Regions from separate parts of the Homo sapiens genome. Here region 2 is linked to region 1. The links come from fine-mapping of genetic effects on gene expression. A gene starts in region 1. The other region holds a variant in brackets. All regions are shown on one strand. Distances are from middle to middle. Region 1 holds the start of ZNF248 (zinc finger protein 248). Region 2 has its middle 230 kb from the start of LINC00999.

Evidence for each region. PIP is the estimated chance that this variant, and not a neighbour inherited with it, causes the effect.
Region 2: its variant is fine-mapped to the expression of ZNF248 in lung (TOPMed, PIP above 0.99).

What each region holds. Positions count from the first base shown.
Region 1 is chr10:37,855,286-37,859,674 of GRCh38, forward strand. ZNF248 (zinc finger protein 248) reads right to left here and starts at 2,325. Exons shown (of 6, transcript NM_021045.3): 1 at 1,900-2,325; 2 at 1,150-1,247; 3 at 1,011-1,052. The coding sequence starts at 1,025. It overlaps ZNF248-AS1 (ZNF248 antisense RNA 1), which reads left to right and starts at 2,464. Exons shown (of 2, transcript NR_186559.1): 1 at 2,464-3,216; 2 at 3,793-4,389. RefSeq lists an enhancer at 1,818-1,877 and silencers at 2,195-2,571, 2,268-2,817.
Region 2 is chr10:38,660,344-38,664,732 of GRCh38, forward strand. It overlaps the pseudogene SLC9B1P3. Among named protein-coding and RNA genes, the nearest start is that of LINC00999, 230 kb to the left of the region's middle. The variant C/G (reference allele first, on the strand shown) is at 1,664.

The DNA of each region.
Region 1 (4,389 bases):
AATGATTAAATGTCACCCTACCTGGAGAAACTGCATGAACAGAGGAAGGGAGTGTGAATATATATGTACATCTTTTGTTATCACTTATACTTTTAAAAAAGTAAAAGTAATGTATTATTACATTAATGTATTATTAATTCAAAAGCACTTTATTAAGGAAAAAAAATGAAACCAGTCAGGAAAAACAGACCGAGAAGAACCTAAGTAGGCTAAGGATGGAAATGCACGCATAAGCAATGCCTGGAGCAAAAAGAAAAGATGCCTTCATGAGGACTAGGGAGGGAATCAAAGTTAGGAAAGGACAGCTCAGAGGGTGGCATTACAGACACCAACAGAGGAGACTCTCCAAACAAAGACCATGGTTAACAATATATGCAGCAGACCAGGCAAGTAATGCAAAGGCAAAAACATGCACTAGCCTTGACTATGATTTGGTGGCCTTTGCCAGAACTGATTCAGGTGAGTTTAGGTGAGGGAATAAGGTTGCATTCATCAGATTGAAACATAAATGAGAAACACAGAAACAAGTCGGAACTGTCAGTGATTCAACCTAGAAATAAGAACGAGCTGACACAAACAGTTAGGGAAAACTGTTTTGAGGACATGCAGTCCCTCCATTCCTCCACATCGTCAAGGTTTTATTCCTGGATCAAACAGGACCATCAAACCTCAGCGTTTGTTCTCCTGAAAAGCATATGCACTGAGTTCTGCTCTGTAACTGTGTTCTTTGTTTCTACAAAGAAATACTTATAGACAATTTACTGCATTTATTTCAGAATTGTTACTAGAACAATTAGAGATAATATTACAATAACTTGGATAATTCTGCAAAATTAAAAATCCTGCATCTAATTTGCCAACTGCACTATTTTGGATTTGCTACTTCAGTTTTATTTCCCTTAATGTCAATTTTTGCCTATTTCTATTTTTCCATTTTCAAAACATAAACCCTTATAAACTTCAGAAATCCATTTTTAAACAAACTGGGAATAAAGAAACAAGAATCTCACCTGGGATTTGTTCATTTTCCGCTCTTAGTGGAGGAAGGAGAGCTGAAGGATTAGAAAGGAAGAATGTCAGGAGAGCCTTCGCCGGCCTTGCAGTTCGGAGATTCACCTGCCTATACAGGTCCACACACAAGATACTTACGTGTCCATGTGTGGCTCCGATATATGCTGAGCTCAGACATGACACTTTTCACTGAGTGAATGTAAATATTTCTTATTGATTTATTACCAATTTAGGTTCTGTGACACAGAAAAATTAAAAACATGAAAAGATGAGTTTAACAAGTTAACAGTAATCTGAAGGAAAAAACACTATGGGTTTGTCAAAATTCCTTGTAGGGAAAAAAAAAAACTGAGGCCATATTGTTTATCTGTTTACCTGTTAACACCATTAATGCCCTGAGGTTAGATAATGCAAAAGACCTCTAAAAAAAGGGATAGGATGTTAAATGCAAGTTTAAAAATGTTTGTTCTAACTTGCTAACAATTCCTCAAAAGGATCTTTTAATGAGAAACTGTGATATAGAGTAACAAAATGGGCAGCAGTGGCTCGGGAAACTGCAGACTTGACTTCTAATCTCAGTTCTGCCTCTAAGGAATGACAAGATCTGAACTACTCACCTCCTCAAACTCAATTTTGTTTTTCCATCTTTCAAATAAGGTCAAAACAGATAACCCAAGTATGACCTGACTGCACTACCATCCGGCGGGGATATCAGGCCAAGAGAGGAGGAAGCTCAGCAGCTCATCTGGATGTGCCCGGTGTTCGCGGAGGGGTGATAACAGCATTTCTTTCGCTGTGGCCGTGAGCCTTTCACCCGTCCCTGCCCTCAGACTCTCCAGAGGTGACGTTCCTGTTAGCCTGCGCGCCCACCCCTCAGCTCCAGCTCACCTCTCTCTTCTTAAATTTGTCCCAGACCTTGCACCAGCACACAGACTCCGACGGCTTCAGGATACTGTGCCATGATTACACATAATACATAAGCGAACGCGAAACGTGTAAATAATTACTTGGGATAGGAGGGCGGTCAGAGCCAGCAGGGGCCCTGGTGGTCAGCTAGGCCAGCCCCTTCGCTCCTGCACTCCACGGGCAGAGAGGCCCTTGGGGCCGGTGCAGGAGCCGTCTCCCTCGGGCTCTCCCAGGGAACGCACACCCAATAAATACAGCACCTAAACAATGAAAGTGCTCAAAACAACCCCAGGCGGCAAGTATTCCTAATATCCGTAATTTACAGAGAGGAAAACCGAGTCTCCCGTGGATAATTGTGTCTAATTCATTTGTCGCGGACCTGGCGCAGTCGCTCTCCCCCGCAGCCCCGCCTCCTCCCCGCGGGCTCAGGGCACAAAAAGCGCACACGCACACATCAAACGCCATGCGCACGCGCACAACAAACGTCACACGCTACGCACGCGCGTGCTGTCCCCTCCCCGCAGCCAGTTCCCTCCCCTTCGGGCCAGTGCGCATTGCCTACCCCGTGCTACAGGACTTCGCTGAGCGCCAGGCGCAGGGACTGGACGCATACGGACCCCCGGGAGCCCCGGAACTCGCGTTCCCACGCCAGACCTCATCCCCTTCTGACAGAGACGCCCTCGTCCCACCGTCGCCGCAGGCGCCAGGGGTCCCTCCCCACCGCCGAGGTCTAGCCGCCGCCCGCCCGCCTTCAGGGCAGCGCGGGGACCCCCTGGCCCTCGCCCAGTGCTCCGGGGCTCACCCGCCGCTCCTCGCCGCCTCCGGAGGCGAGGGATTGTTTCCCACAAGGGACTGGAGTCCAGGGAAGGACTCGCCTGGAGCGGGAGGCGGGGATGCACATGCGCAGAGGGAGAGGCCGAGCGCCCGAGTTAGGCTGGTGGATGCGATGCGGGGCTTGGAAGCGGCGCTAGACGGTGCCTGTCAGCTCTGGCCGCAACCCTCAGTTGTAAAATGAGGCTGATAGTGCCTACCTAGCAGGGGTTTTATGAGAATTGGAGGCGCTTACGTTGTAAAAGCATTTAAACCGGTGTCTGACACATAAATTGTTCAGTATATTTCTCACAATTATATATCATGCTGGTCATCATAAGGCTCTCCTGCAAAACAGCCTTGTATAGTGGGTTGAGAGATTACTGTCTCAGTTACCCACTCCTGCTTGGAACCAGGATTCTGTCAGTGTCCCCAGAGGTTGTGGATCAAATCAATGTGCCTGTTAGACACAAGCCAAGAGAAGGAAAGGTGTGCTTGAATTCATTCACGATCATGCATGGTAACGTTTAACTGAAAGACTGGAAGAGAAAACTAAAATCTGTGACCAGTATGGTTATTCTCTGGAATAAGGAAAAACAGAAGCTAGCAATTCAAGACCCAAACATAAAATTGTTTATATGTTTAAAAAAAAAAAAGCCGTTTGAGTAACAAATTTGAAGAAGAAAGCACGCACTCATTTCCCAAAACCAACCATACTTTACCCAGAACTACACTACACGTACATTCTTTTACGTGCACATCTGGCATTTTCAGCACACTATGAGCATGTGCGTGTGTTACAACTTTTCATTTAAAAAATCAACTCCTGGGTCATTGTCCACTTTTTTAAACTTTTCATTTGCTCATAATTTCAGATTTACAGAAGAGTTGCAAAATAGTTCCTATATGCCTTTCACCCAGATTCCACTAGTGTTAGTATTTTACATGACCATGGTATATTTATCAAAACTAAGAAAATAACATAGGTACAAGTACTATTAACTGAACTGCAGAGTTTATTCAGACTTAAGCAGTTCTTCCACTAATGCCCTTTTTCTGTTCCAGCAACCAATCAAGGATATTGTCACCGGGGGTCCTTGCTCCCAGAGCTCCCAAGATGGTGGTGGGCTGCTTCCGAGATGGGGGCAAGCCTCATGTTCTCTGACCTGGGGTTCTTGGCCTCATGGATTACAAGGAATGGAATTTTGGGCTATGTGGTGAGTGTTATAGCTCAATTAGAAGCCGTGGGTCACGGAAGAGAACTGTGGAACCCAGTGACTAGTGTTCAGCTCGATTAGGACCAACCTGGGACTTAGCTGTGCAGGAACAATGGCAAGCCTTTAGCCCAACTTGGGAGCAGCAATGGGCACCTCGCTGGATCAGGAGCACAGCGGACACCCTGCCAGATCCGGAGGGATGGAAGTCAGCGGCGGGTCTGCGAAGGCCGCAAACAGCAGCGGTGGACAGCGAGCGAAAGCTCAGCTCAAGCCGTAACAAACACGGACCAGAAGAGAGTGCAGTTGCAAGATTTAATAGAATGAAAACACAGCTCCCATGCAAAGGGAGGGGACCCAAAGTGGGTAGCTGTTGCCGGCTCCAATGCCTGGGTTTCTATCCCGATCATTGTCCCTCCCGCTGTGCTCTTAGGCAATAGATGATTGG
Region 2 (4,389 bases), 810 kb after region 1:
GAAGTAGGCTTCAGAAGGTTGGTAATAAGAAACTTCTCCGAGCTAAAGGAGGACGTTGGAACCCATTGCAAGGAAGCTAAAAACCTTGAAAAAAGATTAGACGAAAGGCTTACAAGAATAAACAGTGTAGAGAAGACCTTAAGTGACCCAATGGAGCTGAAAACCATGGCATGAGAACTTTGTGACGCATGCACAAGCTTCAATAGCCGATTCAATCAAGTGGAAGAAAGGGTATCAGTGATTGAAGATCAAATAAATGAAATAAAGTGAGAAGACAAGGTTGAGAAACAAGAGTAAAAAGAAATGAAGAAAGCCTCCAAGAAATATGAGACCATGTAAAAAGACCAAATCTACATTTGATTGGTGTACCGGAAAGTGATGAGGAGAATGGAACCAAGTTGGAAAACACTCTGTAGGATATTATCCAGGAGAACTTCCCCAATCTAGCAAGGCAGGCCAACATTCAACTTCAGGAAATACAGAGAACAACACAAAGATACTCTTTGAGAAGAGCAATTCCAAGACACATAATTGTCAGATTCACCAAGGTTGAAGTGTAGGAAAAAGTGTTAAGGGCAGCCAGAGAGAAAGGTCAGGTTAGCCACAAAGAGAAGCCCATCAGACTAACAGCTGATCTCTTGGCAGAAACCCTACAATCCAGAAGAGAGTGGGGGCCAATATTCAACATTCTTAAAGAAAATAATTTTCAAACCAGAGTTTCATATCCAGCCAAACTAAGCGTCATAAGTGAAGGAGAAAATAAAATTCTTTACTGACAAGCAAATGCTGAGAGATTTTGTCACCACCAGGCCTGCCTTACAAGAGCTCCTGAAGGAAGCACTAAACATGGAAAGAAACACCCGGTACCAGCCAGTGCAAAAACATGCCAAGTTGTAAAGAACATCAATGCTAGGAAGAAACTACATCAATTAACGGGCAAATAACCAGCGAATATCATAATGACAGGATCAAATTCACACATAACAATATTAACTGTAAACATAAATGGGCTAAATGCCCCAATTAAAGGACACAGACTGGCAAATTGGATAAAGAGTCAAGACCCATCAGTGTGCTGTATTCAGGAGACCAATCTCATGCGCAAATTCACACATAGGTTCAACATAAAGGGATGGAGGAAGATCTACCAAGAAAATGGAAAACAAAAAAAGGCAGGGGTTGCAATCCTTGTCTCTGATAAAACAGACTTTAAACCAACAAAGATCAAAAGAGACAAAGAAGGCCATTACATAATGGTAAAGGGATCAATGCAACAAGAAGAGCTAACTATCCTAAATATATATGCACCTAATACAAGAGCACCCAGATTCATAAAGCAAGTCCTTAGAGACCTACAAAGAGACTTAGATTCCCACACAATAATAATGGGAGACTTTAACACCCAACTGTCAATATTAGAAAGATCAACAAGGCAGAAGGTTAACAAAGATATCCAGGACCTGAACTCAGCTCTGCAACAAACAGACCCAATAGACATCCACAGAACTCTCCACCCCAAATCAACAGAGTGTACATTCTTCTCAGCACCACATCTCACTTATTCTAAATTTGACCACATAATTGGAAGTAAAGCACTCCTCACCAAATGTAAAAGAACAGAAATCACAACAGACTGTCTCTCAGACCACAGTGCGATCAAATT[C/G]GAACTTAGGATTAAGAAGCTCACTCAAAACTGAACAACTACATGGAAACTGAACAATTTGCTCCTGAATGACTACTGGGTAAATAACAAAATGAAGGCAGAAATAAAGATGTTCTTTGAAACCAATGAGAACAAAGACACAATGTACCAGAATCTCTGGGACACATTTAAAGCAGTGTGTAGGGGGAAATTGATAGCACTAAATGCCCAGAAGAGAAAGCAGGAAAGATCTAAAATTGACCCCCTAACATCACAATTAAAAGTACTAGAGAAGAAAAAGCAAACACATTCAAAAGCTGGCAGAAGGAAAAAATAAGATCAGAGCAGAGCTGAAGGAGACAGAGACACAAAAAACCCTTCAAAAAAGCAATGAATCCAGGAGCTTGTTTTTTGAAAAGATCAACAAAATTGATAGACTGCTAGCAAGACTAATAAAGAGAAAAGAGAGAGGAATCAAATAGATGCAATAAAATGATAAAGGGGATATCACCACTGAGCCCAGGGAAATAAAAACTACCATCAGAGAATACTATAAACGCCTATACACAAATAAACTTGAACATCTGGAAGAAATGGATAAATTCTGGGACACATACACCCTTGCAAGACTAAACCAGGAAGAAGTTGAATCTCTGAATAGACCAATAACAGGCTCTGAAATTGAGGCAATAATTAATAGCCCACCAACCAAAAAAAAGTCCAGGACCAGATGCATTCACAGCTGAGTTCTACCAGAGGTACAAAGAGGAGCTGGTATCATTCTTTCTGAAACTTTTCCAATCAATAGAAAAAGATAGAATCCTCCCTAATTCATTTTATGAGACCAACATCATCCTGATACCAAAGCCTGACAGACACAACAACAAAAAAAGAGAATTTTAGACCAATATCCCGGATGAACATTGATGCAAATATCCTCAATAAGATACTAACAAACTGAATCCAGCAGCACATCAAAAAGCTTATCCACCACGATCAACTTGGCATCCCTAGGATGCAAGACTGGTTCAACATACGCAAATCAATAAGCGTAATACATCATATAAACAGAACCAAAGACAAAAACCACATGATTATCTTAATAGATGCAGAAAAGACCTTTGACAAAATTCAACAGCCCTTCATGCTAAGAACTCTCAATAAACTAGGTATTGATGGGATGTATCTCAAAATAATAAGAGCTATTTATGACAAAAACACAGCCAATATCATATTGAATGGACAATAACTGGAAGCATTCCCTTTGAAACCTGGCACAAGACAACGATTCCCTCTCTCACCACTCCTATTCAACATAGTCTTGGAAGTTCTGGCCAGGTCAATCAGGCAAGAGAATGAAATAAAGGGTATTCAATTAGGAAAAGAGGAAGTCAAATTGTTCCTGTCTGAAGATGACATGACTGTATATTCACAAAACCCCATCATCTCAGCCCAATATCTCCTTAAGCTGATAAGCAACTTCAGCAAACTCTCAGGATACAAAATCAATGTGCAAAAATCACAAGCATTCCTATACACCAATAACACAAAAACGGAGAGCCAAATCATGAGTGAACTCCCATTCACAATTGCTTCAAAGAGAATAAAATACCTTGGAATCCAACTTACAAGGGATGTGAAGGGCCTCTTCAAGGAGAACTACAAACCACTGCTCAACAAAATAAAAGAGGACACAAACAAATGGAAGAACATTCCATGCTCATGGATAGGAAGAATCAATATCGTGAAAATGGCCATACAGACAAAGATAATTTATAGATTCAATGCCGTCCCAATCAAGCTACCAATGACTTTCTTCACAGAATTGGAAAAAACAACTTTAAAGTTCATATGGAACCAAAAAAGAACCTGCATTGCCAAGTCAATCCTAAGCAAAAAGAACAAAGCAGGAGGAATCACACTACCTGACTTCAAACTACACTACAAGGCTACAGTAACCAAAACAGCATGGTACTAGTGCCAAAACAGAGATACAGACCAATGGAACAGAATAGAGCCCTCGGAAATAATACCACACATCTACAACCATCTGATCTTTGACAAACCTGACATAAACAAGAAATGGGGAAAGGATTCCCTATTTAATAAATGGTGCTGGGAGAACTGGCTAGCCATATGTGGAAAGCTGAAACTGGATCCCTTCCTTACACCTTATATAAAATTTAATTCAAGATGGATTAAATACTTAAATGTTAGACCTAAAACCATAAAAACCCTAGAAGAATACCTAGGCAATACCATTCAGGACATAGGCATGGGCAAGGAATTCATGACTAAAACACCAATAGCAATGGCAACAAAAGCCAACATTGACAAATCAGATCTAATTAAATTCAAGAGCTTCTGCATAGCAAAAGAAACTACCATCAGAGTGAACAGACAACCTACAGAATGGGAGAAAATTTTTACAATCTACCCATCTGACAAAGGGCTAATATCCAGAATCTACAAAGAACTTAAACAAATTTATATGAAAAAATCAAACTACCCCATCAAAAAGTGGGCAAAGGGTATGAACAGACACTTCTCAAAAGAAGACATCTATGCAGCCAACAGACACATGGAAAAATGCTCATCACCACTGGCCATCAGAGAAATGCAAATCAAAACCACAATGAGATACCATCTCACACCAATTAGAATGGCGATCATTAAAAAGTCAGGAAGCAACATGTGCTGGAGAGGATATGGAGAAATAGGAACACTTTTACAGTGTTGGTTGGAGT